3 linked regions of the Homo sapiens genome follow. The protein of the gene in region 1 interacts with the protein of each later gene in a biochemical or structural test. Each region holds a gene or a part of one and is shown on either strand. Other genes may lie near its edges.

The links. The genes of interacting proteins can lie anywhere in the genome.
Region 2: of the proteins of RIPK1 (region 1) and OTUD1, one has a biochemical effect on the other in vitro, tested with the Homo sapiens proteins (2 studies listed by BioGRID).
Region 3: of the proteins of RIPK1 (region 1) and BIRC2, one has a biochemical effect on the other in vitro, tested with the Homo sapiens proteins (6 studies listed by BioGRID, with this or other methods).

The regions. Positions count from the first base shown.
Region 1 is NC_000006.12:3,106,471-3,113,496, reverse strand, and holds part of RIPK1 (receptor-interacting serine/threonine-protein kinase 1), read right to left. Parts: exon of another isoform or gene 6,706-7,026; intron 5,696-6,705; exon of another isoform or gene 5,600-5,695; intron 4,196-5,599; exon of another isoform or gene 4,101-4,195; intron 2,695-4,100; coding exon 2,542-2,694; intron 445-2,541; coding exon 158-444; 3' UTR 1-157. UniProt on the Homo sapiens protein: Serine-threonine kinase which is a key regulator of TNF-mediated apoptosis, necroptosis and inflammatory pathways.
Region 2 is NC_000010.11:23,434,950-23,442,076, forward strand, and holds the start of OTUD1 (OTU domain-containing protein 1), read left to right. Parts: upstream 1-4,125; 5' UTR 4,126-4,508; coding exon 4,509-5,954; 3' UTR 5,955-7,127. UniProt on the Homo sapiens protein: Deubiquitinating enzyme that specifically hydrolyzes 'Lys-63'-linked polyubiquitin to monoubiquitin.
Region 3 is NC_000011.10:102,357,190-102,364,215, reverse strand, and holds part of BIRC2 (baculoviral IAP repeat-containing protein 2), read right to left. Parts: intron 1,321-7,026; coding exon 1,242-1,320; intron 549-1,241; coding exon 500-548; intron 1-499. UniProt on the Homo sapiens protein: Multi-functional protein which regulates not only caspases and apoptosis, but also modulates inflammatory signaling and immunity, mitogenic kinase signaling, and cell proliferation, as well as cell invasion and metastasis.

The DNA of each region.
Region 1 (7,026 bases):
TCCCCATTCTCCAGCTATGAAGTACAGGAAACAAAATTTCTGCAGACACAGAACCCCTATCAGTGAGGACAGAATTCTGAATGCTCTGAGGCAGCCAACTTTCTGGGGTTATCCACTAAGTGAGGCGTCCACTTCAGCTGCCGTAGCCCATCCAGGGTTAGTTCTGGCTGACGTAAATCAAGCTGCTCAGAAGGTCGATCCTGGAACACTGGTGGAGCGCCTGGGCCAGCTTCCCCACCGTGGCTCCCTTTATGCCTTCCCTCATCACCCACTTTTGGAGCATCTGGTAAACCTTTTCTTTCAGTCCATCTCGCTCATAGTCATGGTCAATTTCATCAATCTGAGACTGTGTGAAGCCCAGTTTACGGGCACAGTTTTTCCAGTGCTTTCCCAGATTTTCCCTGATTGGGTCCAGGTGTTTATCCGTCAGACTAGTGGTATTATCTGCCAAATGGGAAAAAGAAGAAGGTATCAAGCTAAAACCCATTCAAACATTCCAGCTTCCTGAATTGCTAAAAAACCCAAGTGAAATGAAGAGTACCAGAAGACAGTGAAAAAGATAACTTCTTAGTTATATAGCTGTTGATGCACTGGCAGACATTTCACATGCCTGCTAGCCCACATGGAGTCTTTATGTGAATTAGAATAGGGCATTCCCGGCCTGGCGTGGTGGCTCATGCCTATAATCCCAACACTTTGGGAGGCCAAGGCAGGAGGATCACTTGAACCCGGGAGTTCTAGACCAGTCCTGGGCAACACAGCAAGAACCTGTCTCTACCAAAAAAAAAATTTTTTTTAATTAGCTGGGTATGGTGGCACATGCCTGTAGTCCCAGTTACTGAGGAGGCTGAGACAGGAGGATCACTTGAACTCAGGAGTTCGAGGCTGCAGTGAGCCATGACTGTGCCCCTGTACTTCAGCCTGGGCCACAGAGCAGGATGTTGTCTCAAAAACAAAACAAAAAAGAATAAGGCATTCCTTCCTCCTAGTAGACACATCCCTGAGCCACAGCTGATGGCTCTGTGAACAAAACCCCTGTGTGGCTACGAGGTTGGGTGTTCTAGTCAATCTTAGCCAGTGATCCTGTTGGTATTAGACCTTCCTGGGTGTAAAGGGAAAACCACCATTTTTGTTCCTTTTAGACATTCTCCGCTTACATCTGGCCAGAGTTAAAGCCGCTCAACTCCTGACCACCACCCCGGCCCAACAGTTCACTTTCCTCTTACTTAATCAAGGAATTGTCCAGCAGGCGTGAACCCATTCAGTTACAAAGCCTTCCTTGTCTTTCAAGCGACGAGGTAACTATACTCTTCAAGGTCTGTTTTTGGACCCTAACCCCTCCTTTACTCCACCCCACTGCCGACCGACATTGCCTCTTCTCCAATAGCCATAACCTCTCTCCTTCTACTGGTTCCTTCCCTTCGCCCTTCATAAAAATAATAAAAGGAAACAAATGAAAATGTACAACAACCACAACAAAAAAAATTCCTTAATCCCCACACTACCTCATTAAACAGAATATAAGGAAGAAAACATTTCATTCTTCCTTCCCACCTCTCTTCTTTCCTCAGCCCTCTGTGATGTGGCTCTCTCTCTATCCATATCTTATAGATTGTCAGCAGTCCAAGAACTTCCCAAGATATTTTCCAAATTTTGTCAATATTTCTGTAGGGGGTAGATCCTGGGTTTCATTAGATTCTCACAGGTGCCCCTGACCATTCGCAAGTTCTGTTCTAGGTATTTTAAAAGCTGTCCTTCAAATGGGTTAGACCAGGGGTTGGCCAACTATGGCCTGTGGGCCAAATCTGACTCCTGCCAGCATTTGTAAATCCACTTTTATTGGAACACAGCCGTGCTCATTCATGTACATATTGTCTGTGGTTGCTTTTGCACTACAATAAGAGAGGTGAGTAGTTCCAAGAGACCTCAAAGCCAGCAGGGCCTAACATTTACTATTGGTTCCTTTACAGAAAAAAAAAAAAAAAGCGCCAATCCCATGGTTAATTAGAAAGCTGAGTTCTTAATCAAGTCGTTTTGGCCTCATGACTTTTTCCAGACTGTACTTTGGGATTAGCATTATGGGCTGCACCATAGAACCCTATAAGAGATAGCCCTCTTGATTTTATTACAGAAGTGCTGTGGAGGGCACAGTCTTCTATCTTTTACAGGATCTCCTTCGATGAGGGCCTGACACAGCTATTTCTTCTGGGTCTGAGAAGTAATACTGATGATGATGATGATGAAAGTTTAACACTTTTTATAGAACTTACTATGTGCCAGGCAGTGTTCTAAGCTTTTTATACATATCAACTCATTTAATTTTCACAACAAATCCATAAATTAAATACTGTGATTATCTCCATATTAAAAATAAATAAATGACAAAGGAATTATATGGAAATTACAAAGATATTTTGCAGAAGTAACATAAGAAAACTTTCAAGAAGAATTATCAGAGAAATTTTAAGATTCCACTATGTCCTTCTCACAAGTAAGAAAGTTCAAGGTTGCTAGGCGTTGAGTCCTTCCAGGGTATCTTACCAAAGATAGCTTGGTACTTAGCAGCTGGCTCTTCTTTGAAGTTCGTATTTGTGCTGTCTAGTAGTGATGAACTCGTCCCACCAATCTCCATATAATTGTAGGCTCCAATCTGAATGCCAGTACTATTGTATATGGTATATTTTATAGATTCATCTGCATAGAGAGAAACACACAGGTAAGTAATTCTAGATCAAAAGCAAGAGAAAAAAATACAGCATGGCAAAAAAGCAGGGCTTTATGCCAAACATTAAGTTAATTATCCTATGCCACCCTTTAAACTTTTCTTCTTTCAAATCTGGCTAAACCACCTCATACCCATTAGGATGCCTATGATTAAAAAAAAAAAAAGAAATAACACATATTGACAAAGATGTGGAAAAAATGAAGCCCTTGTGCACTGCTGGTGGGAATGTGAAATGGTGCAGCTGCTCCTATAAAGAGTATAGTGGGCCAGGTGCGGTGGCTCACACCTGTAATCCCAGCACTTTGGGAGGCTGATGCAGGTGATCACCTGAGGTCAGGAGTTCAAGACCAGCCTGGCCAACATGGTGAAACCCCTTCTCTACTAAAAATACAAAAATTAGCCAGGCGTGGTGGTGGGTGCCTGTAATCCCAGCTACTCAGGAGGCTGAGGCAGGAGAATCACTTGAACCCAGGAGGCGGAGCTTGCAGAGTGAGCCAAGATCGTGCCACTGCACTCCAGCCTGGTGATAGAGTGAGAGTCTGTCTCAAAAAAAAAAAAAAAAAAAAATCGTGATTCTTCAAAAAAATTAAAGATAGAATTACCATATGATCCAGCAATTCCGTTTCTGAGTATATACCCAAAAGAACTAAAACAGGGTGTTGAAGAAATATTTCTACCCACGTGTTCACTGCAGCATTATTCACAATAGCTAAAAGGTGGAAGTAAGCCAGGCACCCATGAGCAGATGAGTGGATAACCCAACTGTGGTCTAGCTACACAATGGAATAGTCAGCCTTGAAAAGGAAGGGAATCACATCACATGCTACAACATGCATGAAGCTTGAGGACATTTCCTAAGTGAATGAAGCCAGCCACAAAGAAAAATGCTGCATGGTTCCACTCACATGAGGTACCTAGACTGGTCAGAGTCACAGAAACAGAGAGTAGAATGGTGGTTGTCCGGGGCTGGGAGGGGAGCTGGGGAGTTGGTGTTTAATGGATACAGAGTTTTAGTTTTGCAAGATTAAAACAGTTATATAGATAGATGGTGGTGATGGTTGCATAACACTGTGAATGTTAGATAATGCCACTGTAAAAATGGTTGAAATGGTAAATTTTATGTTTTTGAATTTTACCATAAAAAAATGTGGCTAACACCAAGTCAGAAAACAGAAGTGGATGAACAACACAGCAAAGCTCAGCCACACTTCCCAGCGGGATCCCACGACTCTGAACAGCATCTGTGAAGGGTCCTCCTCCTTTACCTGATAAACTCAAACCTCTCAGGTTCAGTATTCAGAAGCTAGCCACAGCTCTGCCCTACCCTCTTGTCTCTGATCTTCCTTTCACTGTTTCCTCCCTGTCTCCACTCCAGAGACTCCAGTCCCACCAGATTTCCCACCGATCTGCTGACATGATGCTCCTGCCTCTGCCTGGACTGCTGACCTCCCCACGTGCTTCTCCCTGCTTGTGAGTTTCTGACATAGGCCCAGCACAAATTCCACCTCCTTCCATGAGCCTGCACTGTAATCCTAGACTCAGCACTCTGCCCTGCGCCGCTCTGTATCTGAGCTGGGTCTGTTTGACTTCTCCACTAGAATGTGAGTCCCAAGGGCAGCGACCACACCCACTTGTTTTTGTACTCCTTACACTCGCTAGCCTGGGCCTTGGTACGGGGCATGGGCTCAATGACATTCATGCTGAGCTGAATTTGTCAAGTGTTGGTACTGTCCCTAAAGAGCACTTGGCATATCTTTGTAGGAGAGAGAAGGTGGTTGAGAAGACAGTTCTGAGGAGGGAGGGAAATGAGTATCAGCTCAAGGTACCTCCGTCAGCACACCTGGCCCTAAGGTAGGCCACCCTCTGGACCAGGCACTGTGCTCATTTGTTACATTTTCTCTGAGGAAGCCAAGGAAACTAGGGACCCTCTCTACTGAAAGGTGTAAGAAATATAGGATGTGCACACACACGCCATCTGTGTGCAATTCAGGGTGTTCGTGAAGCTGCTGAAACTGGGGTCCTTGGAATCCTAGCAAGGAACCCCTGTGACAGTCTCTGAGGTGCCTTCCAGTGCTCAAGGCTGTCTAGGTGTTCTTTGCTGACAATGATAATAACAGTGCTAATAACAGCAGCTACCGTTTACTGAGCACTTACTCTGCGCATCGCCAGGCACAGTGGTAAGCTGCCTTACCCTGTTTAATCCTCCTGGCCCACCACCTCCAGCTTACACTGACACCGTGTTCGTCACTCACAGTCTGCGCTCACCGCGGGCTTACATGGAGGTTTATTTACCCTGCACCTCTCTACTTGGAAATCTGTGTTCTTGAATCAGTGCTTTCTGCCCAAATCTGACCACTGGAAAAACCATGAAAGTTACGAAGTGGAGAAACGAATGCAATACTAGAAACATACTAGAGCTGATAATATATAAATTTTCAGTTGTAACATTTTCATTTATAATTGAGGAGAATGAACTCTGGAGAGGCAAATGACTTTCCCAAAGTCACCCATATAGTGACCGGCACAAGCAGGACTAGACCTGGGTCTCCTGACTCTTAGCCCAGTGAGCTTTCCTTTTCTAACCTCACTTCAAGCAGCACAGTGAATAAAAAGCAGTGGGTCTAAGAGCTCTTTCACTGAAAGGAAGACATTTATTTTCCTTTTGTACTTACTGCATACACACCCTTCTTCTATGGTATGGCAAATTAGAAAACTCATATTTTGGTATAGAGTTAGGACTTTTTGATGATAAAAGCAAGCAGAAGACTTATTTAAATTTGCAAGGAGAAACTCAGCGTGTTCATTTACTAGCTTAGTACCTGGCAGGATCATCTTTGGGAGCAGAAACACAGAAAATTCTATTATCTATTGTAGATCCAAGCGCCCCTTTCCCACTGAAAGCATCTCAGAACCCTGAAGAAGCTGCATCCCTGTACATCTGTCACTGGCAGAACCAGGAACCAGAACGAGGTGAAAACACAAAGAGATTTCTGGCACTAAACGGGTGTATTTGGGTTGCTCATGTAGAAAAAAGATAAAAAATGACACATTAAATATTGGTTTAGGGTCTGCCTTCTGTCCACTAGGATTTAAACTGTGTGAGGGAAGGGACTCAGGCTGTTTGTTCAGTTATAGCTCCAGTGCCTGGAGAACTGCACGTCACAAAGTGGGAAGAGTTTTGGAATTTTTTTTTTTTTTTTTTTTTTTTTGCGACAGTCTCGCTCTGTCACCCAGGCTGGAGTGCAGTGGTGCAATCTCGGCTTACTGCAACCTCTGCCTCCCGGGTTCAAGTGATTCTCCTGCCTCACCCTCCCAAGTAGCTGGGATTACAGGCGCACGCCACTATGCCCAGCTTTTTTTTTTTTTTTTTTGTATTTTTAGTAGAGACGGGGTTTCACCGTGTTAGCCAGGATGGTCTCAATCTCCTGACCTCGTGATCTTCCCACCTCGGCCTCCCAAAGTGCTGGAATTACAGGCGTGAGCCACTGTGCCCAGCCAGTGGAATTTTTTTTTTTTTTTCGAGACACAATCTCACTCTGTTGCCCAGGCTGGAGTGCAGTGGCATGATCTCAGCTCACTGCAACGTCTGTCTCCAGGGTTCAAGTGATTCTCCTGCCTCAGCCTCCCTAGTAGCTGGGGCTAAAGGCATGCGCCACCACGCCTGGCTAATTTTTGTATTATTTAGTAGAGACAGGGTTTTACCATGTTAGCCAGGCTGGTCTCGAACTCCTGGCCTCAAGTGATCCACTCACCTCAGCCTCCCAAAGTGCTGAGATTACAGGCATAAGCCACCACACCTGGCCAACCATGGCCCCAGCTGAAATTTTTATTGACTTAATCATGAATGAATAAAATGATATGGCAATACTAATAAAAAATTTTATCCCCAACATGAAGGAAACAAAAGGACATTCTGCTCATAGGATTATACATGACTTGGATACTGCTTAATGTCTAATCCAATATTTTGCATTCTACAGATCTTATCATAAAACCTATGGAAGAAATCGAGGATGTTTGCATAGGACGTTTTTGGAGAATTTGGCCTTTTGAAAGAAAATGTAACTAAGCTCTGTGGTTCTGAAAGCTTCCTCTACCTGAGATGATTTCAAGATCTCCAGGACACCTGTGGGTATCATTGGTAGATGCTGTTCAGGTAGTTAAGGTGATGTTGGTGAGTATTATTTGATAAAAATGCTGGATATTACATTAACTCACTTCCATTCTAGACTGCCAGTAACTACTATCACCTACCTTTTACTTCACCTGATAGAGATATGGGAGTTAAAAGAAAATTTTTC
Region 2 (7,127 bases), on another chromosome or scaffold:
TTGCCCAGGCTGGTCTCAAACTCCTGGGCTCAAGTGATTCTCCTGCCTCAGCCTCCCAAAGTGCTGGGATTACAAGCATAAACCACCTTGCCCTGCCATAACCCATTTTCTTTTTTCTTTCTTTCTCTCTTTTTTTGTTGAGATAGGGTCTCCTCTGTCACCCAGGCTGGAGTGCAGTGGCACAATCACAGCTCACTGCAGCCTCAAACTCCCAGCATCAGTGGATCCTCCCAACTCAGCCTCCCAAGCATCTGGGATTACAGGTGTGTGCCACAATGCCTGGCTAACTTTTGTATTTTTTGTAGGGATGGGGTTTTGCCATGTTCCCCAGGCTGGTCTCAAACTACTGCACTCAAGTGATCTACCCACCCTGGCCTTCCAAAGTGCTGGGATTATAAGCATGAGCCCCTCGAACAGCCATAAGCTATTTTCAAACCATTTTGATCACTCCAAAAGAAACCCACGCCCTTTGGCAGTCACTCCACATTCCCTCCTCACCTCAGCCTATTCTCTATTCTAGACATTTCATATAACTGGAATTATACAGTATGTGACCTTTTGCATCTGGCTTTCTTCACTTAGCCTGTTTTGAAGATTCATCCATATTGTAGCATGTGTCTTCATTTTGTTCATGGCTGAATAATATTCCATTGTCTGAATGTATCACACTTGGTTTATCCATTCATCATTTGATGGATATGTGGGTAGTTTTTACTCTTTGGATATTATGAATACTACTACTATGAATATTGATATACAAGTTTTTGTATGGAGATATGTTCTTATTTTTCTTGGTTATATACCTAGAAGTGGAATTACTGGATCATATGGTTAACTCTATGTGTAACATTTTGAGGAACTGCTAAGCTGTTTAAAAAGTATCTGCGTCATTTTACAATCTCACAGGCAACGTATGAAGATTTTAACTTCACATTTTCTCCAACACTTGCTACTGTCTGTCTGTCTTTTCTTTTTTTTCCCTTGATACAGGGCCTCATTCTGTCACCCAGGCTAAAGTGCAATTGTGTGGTCATGGCTCTCTGCAACCTCAAACTCTTGAGCTCAAGCAATTATTCCCCCTCAGCCTTCCAGGAAGCTGGGACTACAGGCATGTGCCACCATGCCAGGCTAATTCTTTTATTTTTTATTTTTTGTAGAGACAGGGTCTTGCTATGTTGCCTCGGCTGCTCTTAAACTCCAGGGGTCAAGTGATCCTCCTGCCTCAGCTTCCCAAAGTACTGGGATTATATGCATGAGCCATGGCTCCTAGCCTAGGAATTGTTTTTTCTAGCTTAATTGGATGTATTTAATGTTTATCTAAAGACACAGGATTCAGCTTCTTTGCACAGTTTTTTTTAAAAAATCACATTTATAGTCTTCCCATGTTTTAATATACAGTATATAGCAAAAACGTTACAAGTTATTCTATGCTAAGTTTTGGGATCCTTCTGAGGAGCTTACAGTTGAGGAAGGGAAAACAGTCACGGAAACCATCAGAATAAAAACAACTCACTTCCTGAAAACTTATACTCTTCAATCGTTCTGATCATGTAGCAATTTTCATGCATATTAATTTTAATTACATAATTACATTATAGATAATTATTTGAACTCACGAGAAATCAGATTTGCCTCCCTAATCTCTTTGCTGTCACCTGCAAGGCCTTGTCTTCTCTTAGCTTCCAAGGGCCAAAAACAACATCCAGTTCCAAAGCTGCTATCATTTCTGCTTTGAAGGTTTCCTGAAGTACCACCTCCTCCAGGAAGCCTTTCCACATTGAGATACAGAGTGGACAAGGATTCCTACTGCCAATACACAGTCTTGCATAGTCCACTGCCCCCAGACAAACTAAAAAGATTTTTAAAAATGCATTCATATGTTAATGTTTCAAATCTTCACCTCTTTGTTTTTGTCTGCTGCTAACTTGGTACATCAGAGGTAGTGTGTCTTCTGTGGACCTAGTGTTTTGTTGTTGTTGTTGCTGTTTTCTGCATTTACCCCAACCTGTTAATATCTACTCTTGCTTTAGGGTTTAAATTCTAATATTTTCCTTATCTCCCTTCAGGCTCCAGTTATGCTAGTCCTGCCAGGCACGTGGTGGGTATGGTAAATATTATTTGGTGACGGCCTTGTTAACAGTCTTGTCTTCTGTTTCAGAACACCAGCTAATGAAAGAGTTAAGCGTGAAGTGCTTCATGCACAGAGCAACAGATGCTCAACAAATCAGTGATGAAATCCAAGGATGGTAATTTCCTTTTTCTAATTAGCCATGAGAGCTTCAAGCTCCCAATGGGGTAGTTACCAGAATTTGAAAAGTTAGACAGTCATTTACCTTCTTCTGAGTTAATTTACATAAGCGGCTGGAGTGACCTGAGCTGGGACCCTGCCAGTCATACTGCCCAAAGATAATTAAAAGCCCTGGCTAGGGTCAAGGGACCTGGATAGTAATCTTGGCTTCACCACTGTCTGACAAACCTTGGAAACTCGCTTTCCATCTACTCATTCACTTAGTAAATATTAATTAGGTCCAATTATGTGCCAAGCACGGTGTTAGGGGATGGAAATATAAGAGCAAGACCCAAGTCTCTCAATTCCTGGAATTCACATTCCACCGGAAAGGTGGGGACCGGAGTACAGCCTACATCACCTACAGGTTCAGTCTCCCTATCTCTAAAATGTTAGGACAACCTCTGGGTTCAATTCGAATGTTTAGGCCCTGTTAATTTAGCATTTGATCACAGCTCAGAATATAGCAAAAGTCTCCCACTACCTCTGGCTTTCCCTTACAAAGGCGGGTATTACAAAAAGACTCGGTAGAAGTATTTTCTATAGTCTATCTTGCCCCGGAATGCAGGTCACGACTTTCTCCACCGCTTTTGACCTCTGGCTAGCATTCACACCTATTCTCAAAGGGCCCTAAGTGATACTGCATTTGGTATTCTGAGAAAGCTTGTTTATAAAAGCCTAAAAGGCTTCCTTGCTTTCCCCCAAGCCAGATATTTGCCAAATGGCATAGGTCAGAGGTGCAAAGTTGGTTTTGTCTTAGCAAGGCAAGAGAATCCACTAGCGGACTCACCCTTACCGGTGAGTCCAAGGAAATGCATAGAAAAGACACAGTGGTAAAACTAGCTGGGCACCTGTAATCCCTGCCCAAGGCAAGGCTGAGGAAGGGGGATCACTTGGGCCCTGGAGGTCGAGGTCGCAGTGGGACATGATGGCGCCACTGCACTCAGCCTGGAAGGCAGAGCAAGACCTTGCCTCAAAAAGAAAAAGAAAAAAAAAAAAAGGAAAAGACGCGGCGGTTCCACGAGTGGTGGCTAGGACCCATAATCCCAACACTTTAGGAGGTCGAGGCGGGAAACAGCTTGAGGCCAGTAGTTCGACACCAGACTGGGCAACTGTGGTGAGACCCTCGCCTTAAAAAAAAAGAAAGAAAGAAAGAAAGAAAATTAGCCGGGTGCGGTGGTGCACACCTGTGGTTTCCAGTTACTCTGGAGGTTGAGGCGGGAGGATCGCTTGAGCCCGGGAAGTCAAGGCTGCAGTGAGCTATGGACTGCGCCACTACACTCTAGCTTCGGAGACAGGTAAGACCCCCATCTCTAAAAAGATAAAAGAAAAGAGGCAGTAGTGAATGCAAGCAGGGATGGTAGCCCATGACCAGCAGAGGCCAAACAGACTTTAAGGCAGCATTCCGTTCTCCACACCCATGCCGGAAGCTTTCCTGCCACGCAAGCTTTCCGAGCATGCTAACTCGCCCCAAGCAGCTCCCATCCCGCAGCATCCACTGCAGCCGCTGAGGAGAGTGGCGCAGCGCAGAAACCAGTGCCCAGTGCCCAGGTGGGGGAAGCGGTCCGTGGGAGTCACGTGGGCGGGAGGCCCAGCCAGGATCCCAGGACTGCTCAGGCCTCCGCGCCCCCGGCCTCGCCCCGCCCGCGCGCGCTCGCGCGCCGAGGGCCACGCCCGTGACGTCGGCGGAGCGCGGTAGGGGGCGGGGCGCGGGCCGGAGTGGGCGGGGCGAGCAGGCGCGACTGAATCGGGCGCCGCAAAGAGCCGCGCATTCCAGTGAGTCCACGTGACGCGGCCGCGAGGCCTGAGGTAAACAACCGCGGCCCCGCCTCCCGGGCCTCCGCGCGCACCGCGCTCCTCCTCGCCGGCGGGACGCGCTCCAACGGGGCGGGCGGCTTCCTCCGTGAGTCCCCAGCGGCCGCCGCGGGCCGAAGCAGCTGCAGCGGGCGCGGCGCCCCGGGTCTGCGGGCCGAGCGCACCGGCAGGGGTCGAGCTCGCGTCCCGTCCCCGCCCCCCTGCGCTGTGGCGCAGCAGGAATTTGGCCGGGACCCGGGCGCTATTCGCGGCTGCTGACTCGCGGCGGCCGGCTGCCTTTCGCTCATCTCTATTCTGGGGCCGTTGGGTCACCGCGCTCCGCCGGCCCCCTCCCCCGGGCCCGGAGGGTGTGTCCCCCGCTCCGGGGCTCGCCGCGCCTATAAGGGGCCGAGCGGCGGGCAGGGACATGCAGCTCTACAGCAGCGTCTGCACCCACTACCCCGCCGGGGCCCCGGGTCCCACGGCCGCCGCCCCCGCGCCACCCGCCGCCGCTACCCCCTTCAAGGTCTCGCTGCAGCCCCCGGGAGCCGCCGGCGCCGCGCCCGAGCCCGAGACCGGTGAGTGCCAGCCCGCCGCGGCCGCCGAGCACCGGGAAGCCGCCGCTGTCCCCGCCGCCAAGATGCCCGCCTTCTCCTCCTGCTTCGAGGTGGTGTCCGGGGCCGCCGCGCCCGCCTCCGCCGCCGCCGGCCCGCCCGGCGCGTCCTGCAAGCCGCCGCTGCCGCCGCACTACACGTCCACCGCACAGATCACCGTGCGGGCCCTGGGCGCCGACAGGCTCCTGCTGCACGGGCCCGATCCCGTTCCCGGCGCCGCGGGCTCCGCCGCTGCCCCGCGCGGCCGCTGCCTCCTGCTCGCCCCGGCGCCCGCAGCCCCGGTCCCGCCGCGGCGGGGCTCCTCGGCCTGGCTCCTGGAGGAGCTGCTGCGGCCCGACTGCCCCGAGCCCGCGGGCTTGGACGCGACACGGGAGGGGCCCGATCGGAACTTCCGACTGAGCGAGCACCGCCAGGCCCTGGCCGCCGCCAAGCACCGAGGCCCCGCGGCGACCCCGGGGAGCCCCGATCCCGGCCCCGGTCCGTGGGGCGAAGAGCACTTGGCGGAGAGGGGCCCCAGGGGCTGGGAGAGGGGCGGCGATCGCTGCGACGCGCCCGGTGGGGACGCGGCGCGGAGGCCCGACCCAGAGGCCGAGGCACCCCCCGCCGGGAGCATCGAGGCCGCCCCGAGTAGTGCGGCGGAGCCGGTGATCGTCTCCAGGTCGGATCCCAGAGACGAGAAGCTGGCCCTATACCTGGCCGAGGTGGAGAAGCAGGACAAGTATCTGCGGCAGAGGAATAAGTACCGATTCCACATCATTCCAGACGGCAACTGCCTCTACCGAGCTGTCAGCAAGACGGTGTATGGGGACCAGAGCCTGCACCGGGAGTTGAGGGAGCAGACGGTGCACTACATCGCCGACCATCTCGACCACTTCAGCCCCCTGATTGAGGGCGACGTGGGGGAGTTTATCATCGCTGCTGCCCAAGACGGGGCATGGGCCGGGTACCCGGAGTTGCTGGCCATGGGGCAGATGCTGAATGTGAATATCCATTTAACTACTGGAGGGAGGCTGGAGAGTCCCACGGTGTCTACCATGATTCATTATTTGGGCCCAGAGGATTCCCTGAGGCCTAGTATTTGGCTCAGTTGGCTCAGTAACGGACACTATGATGCTGTATTTGATCACTCCTATCCTAACCCAGAGTACGACAACTGGTGCAAACAAACTCAAGTGCAAAGGAAACGCGACGAAGAACTTGCCAAATCTATGGCCATATCCTTGTCTAAAATGTATATTGAACAAAATGCATGCTCTTGAAATGTCTCAAAACCTTACACCCTGGGAATAATTGCATATATAACTTGTGTTTGGAGAATCACATGAACTTTAATCAGGGTAATAGCACTTTCAAACTTGCTAGTAGATTTTACTGTAGGTGTAATGCCTTAATCATCTTTTTGAATGTTTTCTCAGAGCTGGAGGTTGCTGGGCACCTAAATGATGTTTCATGATAGCTTTGGGTGATTTTACTGCTATTTATAATTTGCTGTATAAAGTGAGCATTACTTAATTTGCAAGCTGATTTCTCACAGTGTAAATTTGTTCATTCCTGGTAGTCTATTTTCTATAAAAATGTATTTTTGCACAACATTTTTAAAAACTGGTGTACCTTCATCTATGACGTGTTCCATTTTGACAAACAGCTTTCAGGCGTAAATCCAGAGAAGTGCTTTATATGAAATGTATTATTTTGAACAGAGTTTGTGATTTGGTAGTTATTTTATGTTGTTGAAATTTGAATTTCACAATTCTTAGATAATTATTTCAAATGGATATTGATGCATTCTTGTTACCAGATGTTTGGCCCATTCCATTTTGATGAAACAGAGCTGTTGTTTTGGAAGTCATTATTTTTCTAGAAATGGCGAATCTTTTAAAGAAAATTACTTAATGGAAGGTTGTGGGAAGGTGTTTTTTTGTGTTTTTTTTTTGGTTTTTGTTTTGTTTTTCCTCTTTTAAGGGATAGTAGCAGGTCTTACTTGAATGAAAGTCTGATATTTGCTGATGGCAGAATGATTATTCTGTACCCTGGTTGATGTGTAGAGTAGATTGTCTGGTGCTCTCAGTTGTTTTTATTTACATTTGTCACGTTGTTGTAAGAGAATGTTAACATGGTATAAAACTCTGTGACAAGATAAGCCTCCTGCTTTATATAACTTCTTGAATCCAGCTAAGAGATTTATAAACTAATGGCATAAATGTCTGGAGCCAACCTTGGCAGTTATAGCAGGAGAACACTGTCTTAATATTTCTTTACATTCTTTCAAAAGGCAAAATAGGATTGCCCTGTATTGATGTAGAAATGTCTGTAAACAGAGCTTGTATGGTTTGCTGGGTCAAACAATGTTTCCAACTTAAAATCAATCTCATTGCCACTTTAACTACTTTTAGTCATATTTATTAAGTAATGCAGTTTGTACTTTTTTTATT
Region 3 (7,026 bases), on another chromosome or scaffold:
TCTCTCTCTCTCTCTCTCTCTCTCTCTCTGTGTGTGTGTGTATATATATATATATATATATATATATATATATATAATATTTATTAGCTGACTTCCCAGTATTTTTCCCTATGGCTTCAGAAACTCTTTTAAAAAATACATACTTTCATTCCTACCTTTTTTTTTGGAGATGGAGTTTCGCTCTGTTGCCCAGGATGGAGTGCAATGGCATAATCTCAGTTCACTGCAACCTCCACCTCCTGGGTTCAAGCAATTCTCCTGCCTCAGCCTCCCGAGTAGCTGAGACTACAGGCACATCACACCCGGCTAAGTTTTGTATTTTTAGTAGATGGAGTTTTACTATGTTGGCCAGGCTGGTCTCGAACTCCTGACCTCAGGTGATCTGTCAACCTCGGCCTCTCAAAGTGTTGGGATTACAGGCATGAGCCACTGCACCCAGCCTATTCCTAAAATTCTTATAAAAATTTACACTCTATACTTAAAATTATCTCATACATACTTGGTGGGTCAGCATTTTCTTCTCCAGTGGTATCTGAAGTTGACAACAGCTATGAAACAAGAGAAAAGTTAATAGGTAAAAGCAGATATCCCCAACAATCTGAAAAGAACAACACTAAAATAAGCTTACTTTAAGTAAATGTATATGTTCTTTTGAGAACTGAGTGATTTATGACCTTTGCTTTGCTTTCTTTTACCCTAATCACATAGATTTCCTTAAATTTCATGTCATCCCAAATTAGAAATCAAGTATTTCTCTAGTTTCAGGAAAGTAGAAAAATGTATCAGTGGTTTCTCATTTCATTTGGAAAATAAGATTTTAACTGGGTTACTCTCCAAGGGTCTCAGCTCCTAACAAGTTATTTTTTGTTTGTTTTTCTGGAAAACAGCAAAGAGACACTAAAGATCCTTCTCCAATCCCATCACAAATTTGTACAGTGGCAGCATAAATGATTTTTCAAAATAGTAAAAACAAAAAAACAATCTTTTTTAAAAAGCCCTCAAAAATCAAGTTGGTTACAAAAGTAAAAACCAAAGATGTCATTAACATGGATGAAAGTATGTACCTACAATTAATAAAAGAGAAATAAGCATAACTTCTAATATAGGTTGGTACAAAAGTGATCACGGTTTTGGCCATGACTTTCAATGGCAAAAATCATGATCACTTTTATACCAACCTAATAATATTTTTGTTATTATAAAGCAGAATTCAATGTTGTTAATTTTAAAAATGTATTTACCTGTTCAAGAAGATGAGGATATCTACCTTGAATCTCATCAACAAACTCTTGGCCTTTCATTCGTATCAAGAACTCACACCTAAAACATATGAGGAAAATTATTTTTTAAAATTGTTTCATATCAAATATAACCTGATCATTCTAGAAAAATGGCTTTCAAATCTTTCATTGTACTCCATAGTAAAAACATTTTACGTCACAACCCAGAACACATACATATCTAACAGGAACAAAATTATCATAAAACAATATACATCCTTCTGTGTGTTATATATCACGGTATTTTCTAATTCAATCCATTAACACAACAACAAAAAGAAAAGCGTCTGCACCTACAAAGGGGAACAAGTTGACTCCTGAAGAACACTATTATACACAATCTATTTTGTGCTTAAAGTGAACTACTTAACAGTTTCAGATACTATTAACTCAGTATTCCTAAAATGTGATCTTTCACAATACAATAACTGCTCATTTTTCTTCAATGTTCACTCTTCCATTACATTTGAGCCAGAATCCACTACCTTCCCTCCAAAAAATATGGAATCAAATATTTTTATCTATATATAATATGACAGTGTTTCTCAAATATTTGTTTTTAAACTGATAGGGCTTCTCAAAGATGTTCCAAGAAGTTCACATACCATCTATATCTATTCTATTCCTTTTGTTTCTTCAATAAATGATACTATACAACAGAATATTCATATGTTAAAAAAAAGGAACACTGACCTATGCCCATATTATATGCAAAAATAGTAAAAATGGATCATATACCTAAATATAAAACCAAAAACAATAAAACTTCTAGGAAAAAGCCTTGTCTTTATTTGTCTTTACATTGGGTAAAGAATTATTAGACAAAAGACCAAAAACATATTCCACAAAAGATAAAATTGATAAATTGACATCATCAAAATTGAAAACATCTGCTCTTCAAAAGACAATGTTAAAGAAATGAAAAGCCGCAGACTGAAAGTTTGCAAGAGTGACATCAGCAAGACAGCAGACTAGGAGACATCAGCCTTCTTCCACCCACAAAAAACAACAAACAGACAGCTATACACAAATACAGCTCTGGAAGAACTCACTAGCCCAATCAGCCTACAGCAATAAAGGGAAAAAAAAAAAAAAGGGAGAATAACCACACAGAAAGGACTGCTGGGAGATCTGCTTAGCAGAGACATCTGGAGATGGCTAAGAACAAGGGGTGAGGGCTACCTGTATCAGTCATGTGGTGAGTGCCATTACAGTCCTCAGTGGCAAAGACTGCTAGGCTCCTCCCCAGAGCAGGTCCCTGGAGACCTCCAATAACCCTCAAGATAGCCACAGACTTCCTGCAGGTTTCACAGTGAAGGACCCTATAGTGTTCATTGATGCCAACCCCAGTAGCCTACTTTGCAGAGGACACTGACAGCTTTCACCATTAAGGTAACCAGCACCCATTGCTGCTGTGAACCCCCTGGAGAGGGAGACACTACTGCACTCCTCACCCTGAAAAAAAGCAGCTCTTGCACTGCCCAGACAGTGCAGCCCCTAACCCCCACATATGCCCCAGACCCCAGAGCCACAGCTGCTTCACATGTACCTTCATGTAAGACCTTTGCTCTGTGGCTGCTCTAATCACACACTCTCCAGATCCCAGCTCTCTGGCTGCTCTGCACACCTGCACTCCGCACCCAACTCAAAGGCTGCTCTACGTGCACCCACATCTGAGGCACTAGAAGCACCACTGCTGCAGGCTAGTCAACATCCTGAACCCAAGACCCGCTGTCTTTCTGCAAACACTTGCACTCCAAACCTTGGCTCTGTAGCTGCTCCACAGGTGTCCACGCCATCAGAGACATCAGTGCTGCCACCTCCACCAACACAACAAGCCCAAAGCCAGAACCTGTGCCAAGAAGAATCCCCTTGGCCACAATGTCTCCCATGGGAGAAAAAGTGATGAAGAGGTCCCCAGCAGCCTCTGCCACTATAGACTAAAAAAAGCCTTGCTGCTGGTATGGATACCTGCAGCCTTGGATGTTGAGGACCCCTGCAATCCTCACTGACAATGATCTGGGCTAATGGAGCTGCATGGAGTTCACAATGCTGGGCCTTCCACAGAGCCAGAACCACCACACCTACTGGCTGGCGCCCTCACCCTCACCCTCACCCACAGGCAAAGATCTTTGCCCACAAAAAAAAAAACAAAAAAAACACACTAATCTGTAATGTCTAGAAGTAATTCGTCCATCAAATACACAGATAACACAAGGCCACAAGAAACAGAAAGAAAAAAAAAAAAAGAAACGTGACATTAGCAAAGAAACTCAGTAATTTTCCAGTAATCACCCACAAAGAAATGGAGATCTATGAACTAACAGATAAAGAATTCAAAATAATTGTTTCAAGCAAACTCAGTGAGCTACAAAAGAACACAGATAATGAAATAAAAAAATATATACAAACAAATGAGAAATTCAACACAGAGATAGGAATAATAAAAAGAAACAAATTCGGGAGCTGAAGAACATAACAACAAAAAATGCAATAGAGAGCATCAATAGCAGACCTGATCAAGCAGAAGAACCTGTGAACTCAAAGGCAGATCATGTGAAATTATCTAGTCAGAGGAGAAAAAAAGAAAAAAAAAAGAATAGTGGAGAAAGCCTACCTGAATTATAGGACACCATCAAGCAAAACAATATTTGCATTTTAAGAATTCAAGGCCAGGCACGATGGCTCACACCTGTAATCCAGCACTTTGGGAGGTTGAGGCGGGTGGATCACATGAAGTCAGGGGTTCAAGACCAGCCTGGCCAACATGGCAAAACCCCGTCTCTACTAAAAATACAAAAATTAGCTGGGCATGGTGGTGCACACCTGTAGTCCCAGCTACGTGGGAGGCTGAGGCAGGAGAATCACTTGAACCTGGGAGGTGGAGGTTGCAGTGAGCTGAGATCATGCCACTGCACTCCAGCCTGGGTGACAGAACAAGACACCATCAAAAAAAAAAACCCAAGAAAATGAAAAACAAACCCGAGAATTCAAGAAGGAAAAGAGAGAAAGGACAGAAAGCTGATTTAAAAAAAAAATGCTGAAAACTTCATAAATCTAGGGAAAGATATCCAGGTACAGGAAGTTCATAGGACCCCATAAAGATTCAACCCAAAGAAGACTTCACTGACACACATTATAATGAACTGGCAAAAATAGAAGATGAAAGAGAATTTTAAAACTGTAACAGAAAAGAAACTCATCTTCTACAAGAGAAACCCTATAAGACCACAAGTGGATTTCTCTGCAAAAACCTTGTAGGCCAGGAGAGAGTTGGATGATATATTCAAAGTGCTGAAAGACAAAACTACCAGACAAGAATATGTATCCCAGCAAAGCTGTCCTTCAGAAATGAAAGAGATATAAACAGTCCCAGACAAACAAAAGCTGAGGGAGTTTATCACCACTGGACGCGCCTTACAAGAAACGCTGAAGAGTTCTCCAAGCTGAAATGAAAGGACACTAATTAGCAACATGGAAACATATGAAAGTATGAAACTCACTGTTAAGATAAATATATAATCAAATTAATAATATACTAAATTTGTAATGGTCATGTGTAAATTACTTAATTCTAAAATACAGGTTTTTAAAAAAAAGTATTAAAAATAACTATAGCTTCAATAATTTTTTCATGAATACACAATATAAAATGCAAATAATGACATCAAAAACATAAAATATGTGCAGGAGGGTCTGAGTAACAGTACAGTTTTTTAATGCAATTGAAATTAAGTTGTTAGTGCTTGAAACAGACTACTATAACTATAAGATGTTCTATGTAAACCTCATGATAGCCACAAAGTAGAAACCAATAGTAGATGCACAAAAGATATAAAGGAATCAAAGCATACCACCACAGAAAATCATCTAAACACAAGGGAAGACAGCAAGAGAGGAAGAAACAAATAATCTGCCAAACAATCAGAAAACAATTACAAAATGACAGAAGTCTTTACCCATCAATAGTTACCTTGAATGTAAATGGGCCAAATTCTCCTATCAAAAGATAAAGAGCAGCTGAATGGATAAAGAAAACAAGATTCAGCTACAGGTTGTCTACAAGAGACTCAATTCACCTTTAAGCACATGCATGGGTATAGGAAAAAAGATATTCCATGCAAATGGAAACCAAAAGAGAGCAGAGGAAGCTAAAGTTTTATCAGATAGGGCAGACTTTACATCAAAAACTGTAAAAAGAGTCAGAGAAAGTAATTATATAATGAGAAAGGGGCCAATTCCACAAGAGGATACAGTATCTGTAAATATATATATGTACCCAACATCAGACCACCTAAATAAACAGAGAAAATATTAACAGATCTGAAGACATTAATAGATAGTAACACAATAATACTAGAAGACTTCAAAAATCCTACTTTCAATAATGGATGGGTCATCCAGACAGAAAATCAGTAAGGAAATATTGGACTTCAACTATACACTGGATCTAATGGATCTAACATACAGGTTGAATATTCCTTATCTGAAATGCTTGGGACTAGAAGTGTTTTGAATTTTACATTTTTTAGATTTGGGAATACCTGCCTTATGTTTACCAGCTGAGCATCCCTAATCCAAAAATGCAAAACCAAAAATGTTCCAAAGAGCATTTCCTTTCAGCATCATGTTGGTACTCAAAAAGTTTTAAATTTTGGAACATTTTGGATTTTGGATTTTTGGATTGGGGATACTCAACCTTTATACAGAACATTCCATCAAACAGCAGATAATACACATTCTTCTTAAGCACACAAGAAAAATTATCCAGCGTAGATCATGCAGCAGGTCACAAAACAAGACTCAACAAACTGAGGAAGACTGAAATCCTATCAAGTATCTTTTCAGACCACAATGGTATGTAACCAGAAATCAATAACAGAATGAAAGTTGGAAAGCTGACAACTATGTGGAAATTGAACAAAATACTCCTGAATAATCAATGGGTCAAAGAAGAAATCAAAAAGAAAATTTTAAAAAATCACAAGAAATATTAAAATTGAAATGCGACATAGCAAAATGTATAGAACAAATGCAGTTCTAAAAGGAAAGTTTATAGCAATAATCGCCTATATTTAAAAAAAATCTTAAATAAACACCGTAATTTTACATCTAAAGGAACTAGAAAAAGTTAGCAGAAGGAAATAACAAAATCTCATGAAATAGAGACTACAAAAACAATAGAAAAGACCACTAAAACTAAGAGCTGGATTTTGAAAAGATAAGTAAAATCAACAAAGCTTTAGTTTGACTAGTAAAAAGGAAGACGAAAATAAATAAAATCAAAACCAAGAGATGTTACCATTGATAACACAGAAACGCAAATGACCATAAGAGACTACCATGAACAATTATTCACCAAAAAACTGTATAACCTAGAAGAAATGGATGCATTCCTAGAAACTTGTAATTTATCAAGACTAAAATAAAGAAGAAATAGAAGATCTGAAAAGACTTATAACTAGTAAGGAGATTGAATCAGTAGTCATAACTCTTCTGACAAAGAAAAAGCCCAGGAACAGATGACCTCATAGCACAGTTCTATCAAGAAGAAGAAAGAAGAAGAAAGGAAGAGGAGGAGAAGAAGGAAGAGGAGGAGGAGGAGGAAAGAAGGAGGAAGAAGAAAGAAAAGGGAGGAGGAGGAAGAAGGAAGAAGAGGGAGGGAAGAGGGAGTAAGGAGGGAGGAGGGGGGAATACTTCCAAACTCATTTTATGAAGCCAAGCATTACTCTGATACCAAAGCCAG